Homo sapiens: one gene and its partner. The protein of the gene in region 2 interacts with the protein of the main gene of each other region in a biochemical or structural test. Each region holds a gene or a part of one and is shown on either strand. Other genes may lie near its edges.

What was found.
Region 1: the proteins of LIG1 (region 2) and MIER1 interact in a test that uses a peptide from one of them, tested with the Homo sapiens proteins (one study listed by BioGRID).

The regions. Positions count from the first base shown.
Region 1 is NC_000001.11:66,969,978-66,977,014, forward strand, and holds part of MIER1 (mesoderm induction early response protein 1), read left to right. Parts: intron 1-830; coding exon 831-982; intron 983-1,677; coding exon 1,678-1,759; intron 1,760-2,919; coding exon 2,920-3,014; exon of another isoform or gene 3,015-5,541; intron 5,542-6,617; coding exon 6,618-6,745; intron 6,746-7,037. UniProt on the Homo sapiens protein: Transcriptional repressor regulating the expression of a number of genes including SP1 target genes. Probably functions through recruitment of HDAC1 a histone deacetylase involved in chromatin silencing.
Region 2 is NC_000019.10:48,118,319-48,125,355, forward strand, and holds part of LIG1 (DNA ligase 1), read right to left. Parts: intron 5,001-7,037; coding exon 4,856-5,000; intron 4,699-4,855; coding exon 4,616-4,698; intron 3,005-4,615; coding exon 2,852-3,004; exon of another isoform or gene 1,849-2,851; intron 873-1,848; coding exon 819-872; intron 1-818.

The DNA.
Region 1 (7,037 bases), on a different chromosome or scaffold from region 2:
AGTCTTTGAAGCTATTCTTTGAAACACTCTCTTCCCTTAGCATCTGTGATGTTACATTCTTGGTATTTCTTCTGTTTGTGACTTTTGAATTTTATCCATGTTTTCTTCTTATCATTTGGAATTCCACAGGCTTTGTCTTAGGTCATCCTCCTTTCATTACTTTTTGAGTTTTAATTAGATTTAGGCTTTCATCTTCTTATAATGGAAATTATGATGAAACTTAAATACCTTTAAAAAAGTAATGACTTGTTTTTGTGAAAGTGATTTATATACATTATACAACTCAAGCATCACAGAAAACATAAAGTAAAATTTACTTCAAATCCCACCACCAGGAATTAAGCAGTGTTAACATTTGGTGAGCATTCTTCTAGACATATTTTCAAAAATAATAGTTACAGTTACAATTACAGGATTTTAGTATGTGCCAGAATGATTGTAAAGTGCTTTAAATCCTTAAAACTATGTGGTAGAGTTATTGTTACCTCCTTTCACAGATGAGACAGAAGGGAAATAATTTGCCCAAGGTCATCATACATGTAATAAGTGGTAGAGATGGTATTCAACCAAGAGAGCTTGGAATTTGGTAAACTCAAGATAAAGTCAGACTGGATCTGCAGGGGGCATAAAGTGGTACCTCCTCTCTGTTTAAATTGTTTAATTTACTTAAACTATAGTTTTTGCCCAAGAACGAAGTCAGGCAAGTAGTAGAACCACACTGTACCTCAGTTCTCAACATTTGGCTCTGAGTTGTTTATTTAGTAATATGTTTTAACACAAACTCTATCAGTTTTTAGAAATTTGTTTAACATTGTCTTTTACTAATTTAGTATATGAAAATGATGATCAGCTCCTGTGGGACCCTGAGTACTTACCAGAAGATAAAGTGATTATATTTCTTAAAGATGCATCTAGAAGAACAGGTGATGAGAAGGGTGTAGAAGCAATTCCTGAAGGATCTCACATAAAAGACAATGAACAGGTCTGTGAAAGAAACAACTGTTAGAACTTTGCCATACACATTTATACATGTAAATGCTGTCACTTGCATTGTTGTTATTCTGTCCACCAAACTTTTTATAACATTATTGACAGGGAATCTGAGGTTATAATCCCTGTAAGATATCCGTTGTTACCACAGTGACTTCATTGGTGTGAAGCTCAAAAACGAAACAAAAACCTGTTTTATTTTGCCTGTATATACTTTTCATTAGGCTTTTTAAAATTCCTTTGGCTATCCCTAAGAATCTGTGTATATCAAGTTGGAATTCTCACCTCGGATTATCTTATGTACATGGTAAGACCAGTGCCTACCATGAACCTATCTTTTTTACCTTTTTAATCATTGTTTTTTTCTGATTTGTTTAAAATTATAGGAATCTCAAGAAGCCACAAAGAAGGGATTTTCATTGATATAAAATGAATTCTTTTTAGTCCTAGGGATACTATGGCCACCAAGTTTATGCATATCCTACTTTGTACATATTTAAAGGTAGTTGATTTATCAGGATCGAATTCATATTTGTTTTTCTTTGGAGTTCTCTATATATAACATTCACTAAAGTTATTTGCCCTCAAAAAGGATGAAAACACTGGATGTTTGAAAAACTTTTAAGAAATTGTAGCATTGAACTGTTTATAGTCCTTGTCACATATTCAAGCCTTTTATTTTTCTAGGCTTTATATGAATTGGTTAAATGCAATTTTGATACAGAAGAAGCATTGAGAAGATTAAGATTTAATGTAAAAGCAGCTAGAGGTAAGTATAGTTTTTATTCATTTTCATGATTTGGCAGAAATTTTAAAATTAAGCTTTTCAGTTTACCTAGGTATAGCCTAAACTTAATAATACTGATTTTTCTGAGTTTGATAAATATTTACAAAATACCAAGTATTACTAAACAAATCGTTACGGGGAGTGGGATTAAGATTGTCCCTTCCTCCTTTGTGGGAAAATACAGTCATGTAAGTAAAAATGTAAAAATTTATACTGCCTTATGCATTCAAGGCATATTTATAAATATTTTCTTATTTGATCTTGATAATTGCCCTATGAACTAGGTAGTATGACAGATAATACCTTTACTTAAAGGTAAAAATTGATGAGCCTGAGATCTCTGAACTAAAGTAACTTGGCGAAAGCAAACATAATTCATCAGTAATGAAGCCATGACTAAAATTTGGATTTTTCTTTTTTATACTATATCTGGCTCCTACCCCCCTTCACTAAGAGTACTACATATATATATATACACTACATATATATATATATATATATATATATAGATATGTAACAAATGAGAGATATTTATTTAACAAAAATTTGAGTGCCTTCTGAATTCTGAGGATGTAACTATAAACAAAGTCCCTTCCCCTCGTGGTGCTTAGAGCTTAGGTAGGGAAACTGGAAAATAGCTGATGAATTCTTCAAGGAAAATTAGAGGGTGCTATTGAAACCTGTAGTAATGGGACTTAACCTATTTGCAGAGAGGGTAGTGCTTTTAGGGAAAGCATTCAGAATGAAGTAATATTTTTGTTGGGATGCAAAAGAATTATCTCAGTGAAAGGGGATGAGGCAGGAAATAATTCTAAGCAAAGGAGAGACACCATGCACAAAGTCTGAAGTAAGAAAGAACATGGCAAATTTAAGGAATTGAAAGGTGGCTGAGATAGTTTGATCAGTAAGAATTAAGAAGAAAGTGGCACAAGTTGAAGCTGGAGAGGTAGGGACCAAATCATTCAAAATCTTATTAAATAAGGAATTGTTGTCACTTTATCTTTTGCAACAATTAGTAATAGAGCTCAGGAGTAAAATGCTTCCCTCATTTTTACGAGAAGGTTAAGTTTTCATTTGTAATTTTGTTATATGCAATAATTGGGGGAATATTGCTTAACAGTTTGTTCCTCCCATCTTGTCAGAGGAATTATCTGTTTGGACAGAGGAAGAGTGTAGAAATTTTGAACAAGGGCTGAAGGCCTATGGAAAGGATTTTCATTTGATTCAGGCTAATAAAGTAAGTAATGATAATCTCTTTTTTGCAAAAAGAAATTTAGTTGAACAACTCAAATGGTCATGTATCGTAATTTGTTATATTGTCTAGTGTTAAAGGTTTCATAATTAATATGACAATATTTTGGTATTTAGTGAGTAATTATAGTAAGGCTGCCTATACTTCCTAACCTATAATTACCTGTTGGTGACTGTTTTCAGTGCATCATATTGCAGGTGTTTAAGAATTGTACTCATTTACAAGCATGTTAATCAACTTCTAGTTGGGGTGTGTATGTGCAATGCAATTCTTTATAGCTGTTTTCCACAGTCTGTGACTGTTTTATGGAGGGCCTTTGAAATGATTTGGAAACTTTAAAGCACTTTCAATATGACATTATTTGCAGTTAAAATATTTATTACATTTGCTTAAGTCCTGAGTGGTCTAAAATCAAATACTTAATATTTAACTTAGTTTTAGTCAACATTTAATTTTCTAGGAGCTTCTGTGTCGATAAATCAGCTTTATATTCTTATAGTTATAATTTGAGGATTTTATTTAACATAATCATTTATCATTTCATGTTGATAATATCAGTCATGTAATTTATACTCCAAATAGCTTTATAATTACTTACAGATTTGTTTTGGGGCTTAATTCTTATAACTGAAATTAGGTATGATTTTTAATAGTAACCATATAATTATATAGAATAGAAAAATGTGTTGTTTCCATGAGCAACACATTAGGACAACAGATTAGGACAGGCAGAATTAAAGTCTTGGAGATTAAATGTAGGAAATTAATTCCCAGGCTTATGATTATCACATTATTTTTAGTTAGTAGAAATGACAAGGGTATTGGTTTATGTAATTCCTTAAAGATAGCTTCTAAGTTTTGTGTCGTAGCTTGTCCAGGACCTTGTTGAAAGTACCTGGGCTTATGTCTGAGGCTCTGAATAGTCTTCTGCCACAGCTCTCTTTTTATACATTTGGATGTGATTGGATTGTATCCAGTTGATTTTTTTGACACATATTTAATATTTTTTGTTATTAATAAAATATTTACAAATCCTGTGGGTTCATTTCTTAAATTTTGTCGTGCATTAACTAGTTTATTCTTATTTTTATTATTTTTTTTTTAAGTGGGAACTGGGCAGTGAAGAGCCCCACTCCCAATTAGTTCATTCTTAATTATTTTGTTGAATGTTGGCAGTTTACCGCAGATAACACTAATAGAGAAATGTTTAGTTTTAGCATTTAGGATAACTTAGAAGACAATGTAATTAGTTTCAAAAATGTATACCCCTAATGTTGTGTTCATATCATCTGATAACCTCAAATATAGTTAACATTCAAGAAAAGGAGTGCATTATGTGACTGGCCGTGTATGTTTTTGATTAAAAAAGAAAAAAGTTCGTTGTTTCATGGTTGAAAGGGACAACATTTTTGGATGAGGTTTTTTTTTTGTTGTTGTTGTTGTTGTTTTTTAACACTTCTGCTTGAATTAAAACACTCTTAACCAAACCATGCTGAATTACCTAAGGAAGGGACCCCTGGAATGATAGCTTATGTAACAAGCAGCAGCAACAACCCTGACCAATATGATTTTTTTAAAGGAGTTAAGAAATTATAGGTGACTTGAAACTTAGAGCCAAGTAACATAAGTATTAAAAGTATAACCTTGATTTCTCATAAATATTTGGGACAGTGGCATTTAAATGTTACAAGGTAGAAGTCAGCTGACCTCTACATAATACACTAAATTACTCTAGTGCACAAAAAGAGGACAGTAATTCTTTAAAAGGGAGACGAGTACTCTAGTGAGAATATCGAGTTTGTTTTTATGTCTGGAATTAAAGTTCAGATCTTAATCATAAGTTCTATTTTGAGGGCTTTTGTTGAAGATTTTTCATAATCTTAACTTTGCATGCCCCAAAATGACTTTATCTTTTTGCTTTCAGTAAAGTACAGTTGACTTAGTTCGAATCTATCTAGAAATAAGATCCTAGAGGAGACAAAAAACAGCTTGAGAGGATGATTTTTTTTAAAGTCCTGATTGCTGTCAGTCTCAGAGCAATATGGATCAGAGCTGTACAGTGCAAACGGGAAGAAAGCAAAATATATGTTGGGTAAGGGAGGGTATCATCAACATTTGTCCTTTAGGTGCAATCAGTGCTACAGAATATTTACTTCAAGAGCAGAAATTTATGGGATAAAGAAGTATATTGCATCCAGAACACATACAGACACTGGATTTCCTTTTAAATGGTCAGTATTGCCGGTGCAGTGGCTCATGCCTGTTATCTCAGTACTTTGGGAGGTTGAAGCATGCAGATTGCTTGAGCCTGGGAGTTCAAGAACAGCCTAGGCAACATGGCAAAACCCCATCTCTACAAAAAATAGAAAAATTACCTGAGTTTGGTGGCATGCAATTGTGGTCCCAGTTATTGAGGGTGCTGAGGCAGGAGGATTGCTTGAGCCTGGGAGGGCAAGGCTGCAGTTAGCGGTTTGGTGCCACTGTACTCCAGCCTGGGCAACAGAGCATGACACTATCTCAAAAAAAAAAGAAAAAGAAAGGAAAAAAGTTATCAGTATTTTATTTATATACATCAGCCCTAAATCCTCAGTATTTTATATATATACATCAACCCTACCACCAGTTCTCCCGGCTAAGTAACAAAAAGGAATTCTGTCAGCATCATTTAATTCCGTAGGCATTTAACATTATGTGAGGGGAGCCATTCAGTTGCACAAATAGGTACAGCACAGTAAGCCGCAAGAGTAACTTAGTAAACAAAGCATTAGCATTATTATGATACTTTTAACTCACTGTGGCATCTTCCCAGACTTTCTAGAGAGTAAATTAACTGAGTCTGGGTTGCTGTTGGGACTAGTAAGAGAATCTTTCAAAAGGGAATTTAAAGATACGCTCCCTAGGTACCCGTACTCTGTGAGTAAAAGTATTAGCAAACTGTTTATAACATTTATTTTAACATGAATGCCACTTCCAGGCCTTTTTTTTGTGTGTGTGTGTGTGAGACTGAGTCTCATTCTGTCACCCAGGTGGGAGTGCAGTGGTGTGATCTCAGCTTAATGCAGCCTCTGCCCCCACCCCCACCCCCTGCTGGGGTTCAAGTGATTCTCCTGCCTCAGCCTCCCGAGTAGCTGGGATTACAGGCACCTGCCACCATGCCCGGCTAATTTTTGTATTTTTAGTAGAGATGGGGTTTCACCATCTTGGCCAGGCTGGTCTTGAACTCCTGACCTCGTGATCCACCCCCCTTGGCCTCCCAAAGTGCTGGGATTACAGGCGTGAGCCACCGTGCCCGGCCAACTTCCAAGCATTTTTAATACAGGAATATATTTTTCTAGTAAATTAGGATGATGGTAGCATTTTAAAAAGCACAGTGCTGTATATCTGAAGACCTGTTGCCAATATATTATTTCTCTTAATAGATGTTTAGAAAGAATAGCTTTCAACATAGCTGCTACACTGTTGTATGTTATATATAGGATTATATTTCAGTTAAGGACTAGCCAAATTTATTTTCAAACTTCAGATGTTTATCATGAAGTAACTTTGTTAAAAAGGAGATTCTTAAAAGCAAGCATTTGTTTCTTACAGGTCCGAACAAGGTCAGTTGGTGAATGTGTAGCATTCTATTACATGTGGAAAAAATCTGAACGTTATGATTTCTTTGCTCAGCAAACACGATTTGGAAAGAAGAAATATAATCTTCATCCTGGTGTAACGTGAGTTAATTTTTTCCTTAAGAGCTATATATACATTTTTGCTAAGCTTTTCTAGATTTTTCTTGAGTTAATTATTATTTTGATAATCTTGCTTTTATATACTTGATCTTAACCAGAAGGCCGAGAGTGATAAAATCTTGCTTTTATAATACACATTAAACTTTACCATCTATTATATCTTCATAAATAAGGCATTTAGACTTTTCAGTGTCTTATGAAATATTGTAAACTACAGTTCATATTATGTATGAGACAAGCATATCATTAAAGCAAGATTTAGAATGTATATTTT
Region 2 (7,037 bases):
CGATGGGGGCAGGTTTTTCCCGTGCTGTTCTCGTGATAGTGAGGAAGTCTCACGAGATCTGACGGCTTTATAAAGGGCAGTTCCCCTGCACACGCTCTCTTGCCTGGCGCCATGTAAGATGTGCCTTTGCTCCTCTTTCGCCTTCTGCCATGACTGTGAGGCCTCCCCAGCCGTGTGGAACTGTGAGTCCAGGAAACCTCTCTTTATAAATGATCCTTTTTTTTTTTTTTTTTTTTTTGAGACAGAGTCTCACTCTGTTTCCCAGGCTGGAGTGCAATGGCATGATTTCAGCTCACTGCAACCTCTGCATCCTGGGTTCAAGCAATTCTTCTGCCTCAGCCTCCCAAGTAGCTGGGACCACAGGCATGCGCCACCACGCCCGGCAAGTCTTGGGTTATTTCTTCATAGCAGTATGAGTATGAAAATAAACTAATACAGATCCAATATGTAGGACAGACACTCATGCCTGAAATGCCTGTGACCATGACAACATTCATTCACATTGATCAGGGCTCACAGGCACTTCACAAGGAGCAGCTATGGCACCTGCTGTGTCCTTTGGCTAACCCCTGGTGTGAATGAGGCACAGGGCTTGGGGAGGTGAGGCTGCTTGAGCAGGGTCACCAGCTAGTAGCCGGCAGTGCTGAGACATGAACCTGGAGATGCTGGACTCCAAAGCCAGCTCCACTGCCTGCTGCCCTCCTGCCCACACCTGGAGCCCCAAGATGGTGGAAGCCAAGAGCCCTGCATGGAAGGACTGTGCTGTCAGGGGCAGGGGGGAGAGGGGTGGAGGCTGAGGCGCAGCCGCCATGGCTCACCTTGAGGCTCTGGTGATGCTCCTCCAGCTCCTCATCACTGAAGCCAGTTCCAAGCTGCAGGGAGGAAGCGGGAGGTCAGAGGCTCAGCCAGCCACAGGCCCAGCACTTGCTCCTGCCATCTAAAGCTGTGTACACTCATGGCCCCCACCCCACTCTGGTCTACGCAGTATCCACAGAAAACCAGGGAAGTAGGGAGCTGGGGGTGCGGAGCATCCATCCAGAGACTCCCGGGTGGGAATGTTCTCCCAGCAGGCCTGCCGTGAACCACTCCCTGTCTTCTGCTTTATGGAGAAACTCTTGCTGCTTCCACTGTCTCCCTGGCCCCAGGAAGTCACTCCCTTATGCTCACCCACATCCTCACTGCCCAGTAACTGGCTGTCCTCACTTCCAGTCTTTTTTTTTTTTTTTTTTTTTTTTTTTGAGACAGGGTGTAGCTCTGTTATCCAGGCTGGAGTGCAGTGGTGCAATCTTGGCTCACTGCAACCTCCACCTCCTGGGCTCAAGCAATCCTCCTGCCTCAGCCTCCCAAGTAGCTGGGACCACAGGCATGCACCACCACGCCTGGCTAATTTTTTAAAAAAGTTTTTGTAGAGGTGGGGTCTCACTATGTTGCCCAGGCTGGTCCCGAACTCCTGGGCTCAAGTGATCCTCCCACCTCAGCCTCCCAAAGTGCTGGGATTACAGGCGTGAGTGGCCATGCCCAGCCCATCTCCAATGTTAACACTGCCAAGAGCTTCTTTCACCTACCAAAATAGGAAAGGCTAAAAATTAGCAGTAATGCTGGATGCTGGCAGATACGCAGCAAGTGGGCAATAATCACCAATATAAACGTCACCTGGAAAGCCCCTTTTGCATTGAGAGTCTTAAGGATTCTTTTTGCCTTTTGTCCTGACAATAGCTCATTTAAAAATCTATTCTAAATAATGCAAAATGGTGACAATGTAGATTGGTGGCCAAAACATTTGTGATTTATAAAAGTCACTTCTGTCACTGATCGTTTAGGTTAACGGACACTAAGTAATCACATTACCCATCAGAACAAAGCCGGCAACAACTTCCCCACACAGCCACGGGGAGCTGGTTCAGGACACAGCACTATGTGCTATGGGGCACAGCACTTGAAAACTCTTGTGCGGGCATTCAGGTCCTGTTGCCATATTGCTTAAGGGCATATACAACACTGAAAACAAAGTACTTCCAGGGTAAAAAGGCAGAAAAGAAAATTACTCATAGAGAAGGATCACAACTTTGCAAAAATGTAAATAAAACATTCCCTCAAATGTCACTACTGCGTGTCTCTGGGTGGTACGATTCTAGGTGATATTTTGTTCTGTTTCTGTGGCAAAAGACCCAAATTTGTTGGAGAGGGGAATATAGGAAATACGTAAGAAAATCTAGTCCAAAATGTGCACAGCTTTAAGAAAAACTTTAACTTGAAAAAAAGTAAATCACTTTACATTTCCCAGAATTCCTTGCAGCTAGGGGTGAGCCATGGAGCAAAGTGATGAGCAACAGAACTTGAGCAGAAGGTGTTCACTGGCTGAGGCTGACTCAGGGTCCAACCCCCTTTGCTCTTCCCTGGTGCGTGGAGCAGGCATGGCCATGAGGGCTGGAACTCCTGCAGCCACATTGTGATGATGAGGCCAGAGGCACATGGCAGAAAAAAAAAATGTGGGGACAAAAAAAAATGTGGGGAGAGGAGGAACCTGAATCCCTAATGGCATCAGACTGCCCCCTCCACACTTCTCATTTCATAACAAAAAAATTCTTTTCTTATGTGAGCCACCACTATTTGTAGCTAATCTCAATCTCTCACTGACACACATTCCTGACATCTTTCTATCCCAGCCTGTTTTTCTATATGAAGCAAGAGTTGCTCATAGAACCAGAAAAAGTAAATAAAAACTGGGGAGAACGGATCCTTCACAGGGGGATGTGAGCACCCCTCGGTCTGGGTTGTGCAATAGGAAATACCCCCGGGAGTCTAATCTCCTTCCCTCCTGCTTCTGCCATCAGCCCCAGTTCCCCAGGACCTTGCATATGGCCTGCAGCTCCTCACTGTCCTCGTCGTAGGAGGCCAGCAGGAAGCCCCCGTACCGGCCGGCCCGCTTCCCCCGGCCCAGGTAGGCGCCGATCACCACCAGGTCCAGGGTGTCACCCACGCCATCAAGGTAGTCCTTCTTCAGCTGGGAGAAGGGGAGGCAAGAGATGAGAAGGGGGAGCGCCCAAGGCGGGGCCCTCACTGCTGGGGAGGGGCTCCTCAGTGGACTGAGGAGGGACTAGAAGTAAGTCTGAAGGGAACTTCCAGAAGGAACCCCAAGGATGGCCCCTGGGAAGAGACTGGACATGGGAAGGGTTTCTAGGTTTAAATAAGAACAAATGGGGCCGGGCACGGTGGCTCATGCCTGTAATCCCAGCATTTTGGGAGGCCGAGGCGGGTGGATCACCTGAGGTCGGGAGTTCGAGACCAGTCTGACCAACATGGAGAAACCCCGTCTCTATTAAAAATACAAAATTAGCCGGGCGTGGTGGCGTGTGCCTGTAATCCCAGCTACTTGGGAGGCTGAGGCAGGGGAATCGCTTGAACCCGGGAGGCGGAGGTTGCAGTGAGCCAAGATCGTGCCATTGCACTCCAGCCTGGGCAATGAGAGTGAAACTCCGTCTTAAAATAAATAAATAAATAAATAAGAACAAATGGGAAACGCAGGCGGGATCGATGGGACCTCAGGAGTCAGCCTTGCCGCCGTCTTTCCCTCAGGACAGAGACGTGGCCAACTCACTCTGGCCACTCCTCCAAAGGGAGAGCATTTTCCCATTCGTTCAGAAACGTTCACTAAGTGCTAACCATGTGCCAGGCAGAAGCTCAGCCCTGGGGGCACAACAGTGCTATTTCCTGAGACAGGAAAGGTCTGTGCTGGAGGGAAACCAGCCACAGACAGACATAAGTACACAGGAAGAGCTAGTCAGCAGGCCTGGCCGGCTCAGTGCCACAATGCCTCCCGCTCCAGTCCCCTTGTCCACCCCTCACTGCCCCTCTCCACTCAAACATCCATCAACTCTTACTGATGACAGGCTCCTGCTCGCTGGCCCTCAACACACCCGTCCTCCACTCGAGGGGAAACCCCAGGAGCTTCGCACAATGACAACCTGTGACTCCCGGCACGGAACCCCCACTGACTTCCTGAAACCTTCAAGAGGAAGATCCAGTTTTATCTCACAGTGGCCCCAGGTGCTGCCTCATCTGGGGCCTGCTCCCCACTCTGAGCTCACCTCCCGCCTCGCCTGCCCTTGCTCCCTGCACACGCAGAGGCTGCTCCTCCCTCAGGGTCTCTGCACCGGGGGTTTTCCTCCCTAGTGCTCTGTCCCTCACTTTGGGAAAGACTCTTCCTGATCATCCGGGGCACTCCCAGCCCCGCCTTGCTGGCCCGGAGCTGACTTGCTTTTCTTCATGGCGCCCACTCCTGCCTGACTTTCTCTTATTCATGTCCTGGCTTAATTCCTGCCCAAGAGCCTGGCCCGACACGGGCGGCAGGCTCAGGAGAGAGACACCTCATCACGCTGCACCTCGTGGGATGTGCGGTGCTTGGGCTGGGGCTGTTCTCCATCAGAACTCGTGAGCAAGGGCTCGCAGCAGGGAGAAGGTCTGAACTCAGTTGCAGCAGGGGGCTGGGGTGGGATTGTGAAAAGGGGCCCTGAGCTCAGACAGGGTACACAGTGGAGGCTCGAAATCCACTGCCTAGCTGGGACAGACCTCCAGACCCGGGGTGGAGAAGGCCCAGTTGGGGGTCGAGAATCACCTTGAGCCAGTTGTGCGATCTCTTGGCGATCTCGTAGGTGGCATCAACATCCAGGGTCTTCACCATCAGCCCCTCGCAGGAGTCTGAGGGAGACACAGAAGCGTGGTCCTTGGGAAGCCCTGGCTCACAAGCGCCGGAGCAGGCAGGATTCTGGTCAAACGGTCCAGGACTGGGGACAGGCTGGGAGGCCGGGGTCAGCGCAAGCTGCAGACCTCAGGAGAGAAAAGTGAGCACCCTCACCTTTCACTGACTGCTCCAGGAACTCGGCGATCTGCTCGATGTCCTTGGTGTCCAGGGAGGTGGCGAAGACAAACTCGCCCTCTGTCTCCACAAAGTTCTCCCGGAGCAGCTGCCGGCGCCGGGAAAGGGGCTCACGTACCAGGGACTGCAGGGCCGGCAGGGAGAAGAGAGATGAGACATCTTTGTGAGAATAAAGACAATAAGCCCTAAATGTGAGGCGAACAGGACATGTGCGGGTCACAACTAGTGACAGGGTTCGTGGAAAGCCTTGAGAGGGAAGAACCCTGATGTCAGAAGGATTCTGAGAGCTTAAAGCATGGGGCTAGTCACTGGCAAGAGGGCCCGACACCATTTAGAGTCGGTGACTTCAGGAGCATCAGACGGGGGGCTGCGGCCTTGCTGGAGCTTGAATTAACACTTTACGGGCATCTCATCAGTTTTGTTTTTTGTTTTTGTTTTTTTGAGACGGAATCTCGCTCTGTCGCCCAGGCTGGAGTGCGGTGGTGCGATCTTGGCTGACTGCAGCCTCCGCCTCCTGAATTCAAGCGACTGTCTTGCGTCGGCCTCCCGAGTAGCTGGGACTACAGGTGCACATCACAAGAGATCCACCCACCTCAGCCTCCCAAAGTGTTGGGATTACAGGCGTGAGCCACTGCATCCAGCCTCATCCCCAAGATAATTAAAAAAAAAAAAAAAAGTCCTCCTTTCCTTAGAATTCCAAAAGTTTTCACTGAGTTTTTCCAGCACATTTACAGTTTTGTGTTTTGCTTTGAAATCAGTTCCAGCTGGACCTTGCAAGAGTGTGTGTCAGAGAGGAAGGAGGTGATCTGAGTGTTTTTAAACAAAGGACAAAGCAGTTGTCTCCACATGTCAACACTGACTAATCCGTCTTGTGGCTTTGAATTGCTTTTCTCTTTTGTTCGATCGGTCCCCACCCACGCGCAGTGTTTCTGGTCTGCCCTTTGCTCAGGGCTTCTCTGTGATGATGTTAAACTACCTTCACCACTTGCCCTCCAGGGGGACATTCACGTGTTTTCCATGGACAGCTTTTTTCTGTTGTAAAATTGTGCTCATGAACATTTTGTATGAAAAGATGAGAGAGAGGAGCCACAAGGGTTAAGCAGGTACAATTTATCTGGGGTCAGACCATTTCAGGTTTACATCCCAGCCACACGCTTCCTAGCTGGTGACTTCAGGCAAGCGTTTCCCTCTGTGTACCTCAGAGCTCCCATCTGTAAAATGCAGCAATACCTACTCAGGGCACGTCTGGGAAGATCAGCTGAGCCCGTGCTACCCAGTGTAGCCGCCACCAGCCATGTGTAGCAATTGAGCCCTTGAAATGTAGCAAGTTCAATCGGAGATGTGCCAAGGGCAAAACAGTCACTGGCTTTAGAAGACTTAATCCAAGAAAAGAGTGTAAAATTCCATGTTAATAATTTCTTATATTCATCACACATTGAAAGGATAATATCTTAGACATTGGATTAAAGAAAATATGATTTTATCTGTTTCTTCTTACCTTTTAATATGGCTACTAGAAGCTCTAAAATTAGAAATGTAGGCTACTGCAGTGGCTCATGCCTGTAATCTCAGCGCTTTGGAAAGCGGAGGTGGGTGGATCACCTGAGGTCAGGAGTTCAACATCAGCCTGGCCAACATGGTGAAACCCCGACTCTACTAAAAATGCACAAATTAGCTGGGTGTGGTGGTGGGTGCCTGTAATCCCAGCTACTTGGGAGGCTGACGCAGGAGAATCACTTGAACGCCAGAGGCGGAGGCTGCAGTGAGCCAAGATCACACCACTGCACTCCAGCCTGGGCGACAGAGACTGTGTCTCAAAAAAAAAAAAAAAATCATGGGGATGAGGACACATTAAACAGAAAAAAAATGATATACTTGACTACATAAAAATAGTTCATCCATGTTCAACTACTACTAATAAAAAAATTTGTAAAAGTAATAGCTCAAACAAGTCCTATACAACAAAATAGGCCATCAATAAATTTTAAAGAAGGAATATTTGAAGGAATGAGAAGAAATATTTGAAATGCTCATGGGAGACAAAGGAACCAGCTGAGCAGGGATGATCAAATCCTGCAGAAAAACCCACAAAGTATCCAGTGTTTGGAAAGCACCTGATACTTGACTTTCCTCTCCCCAGACATCACGGGAAACAAAAATC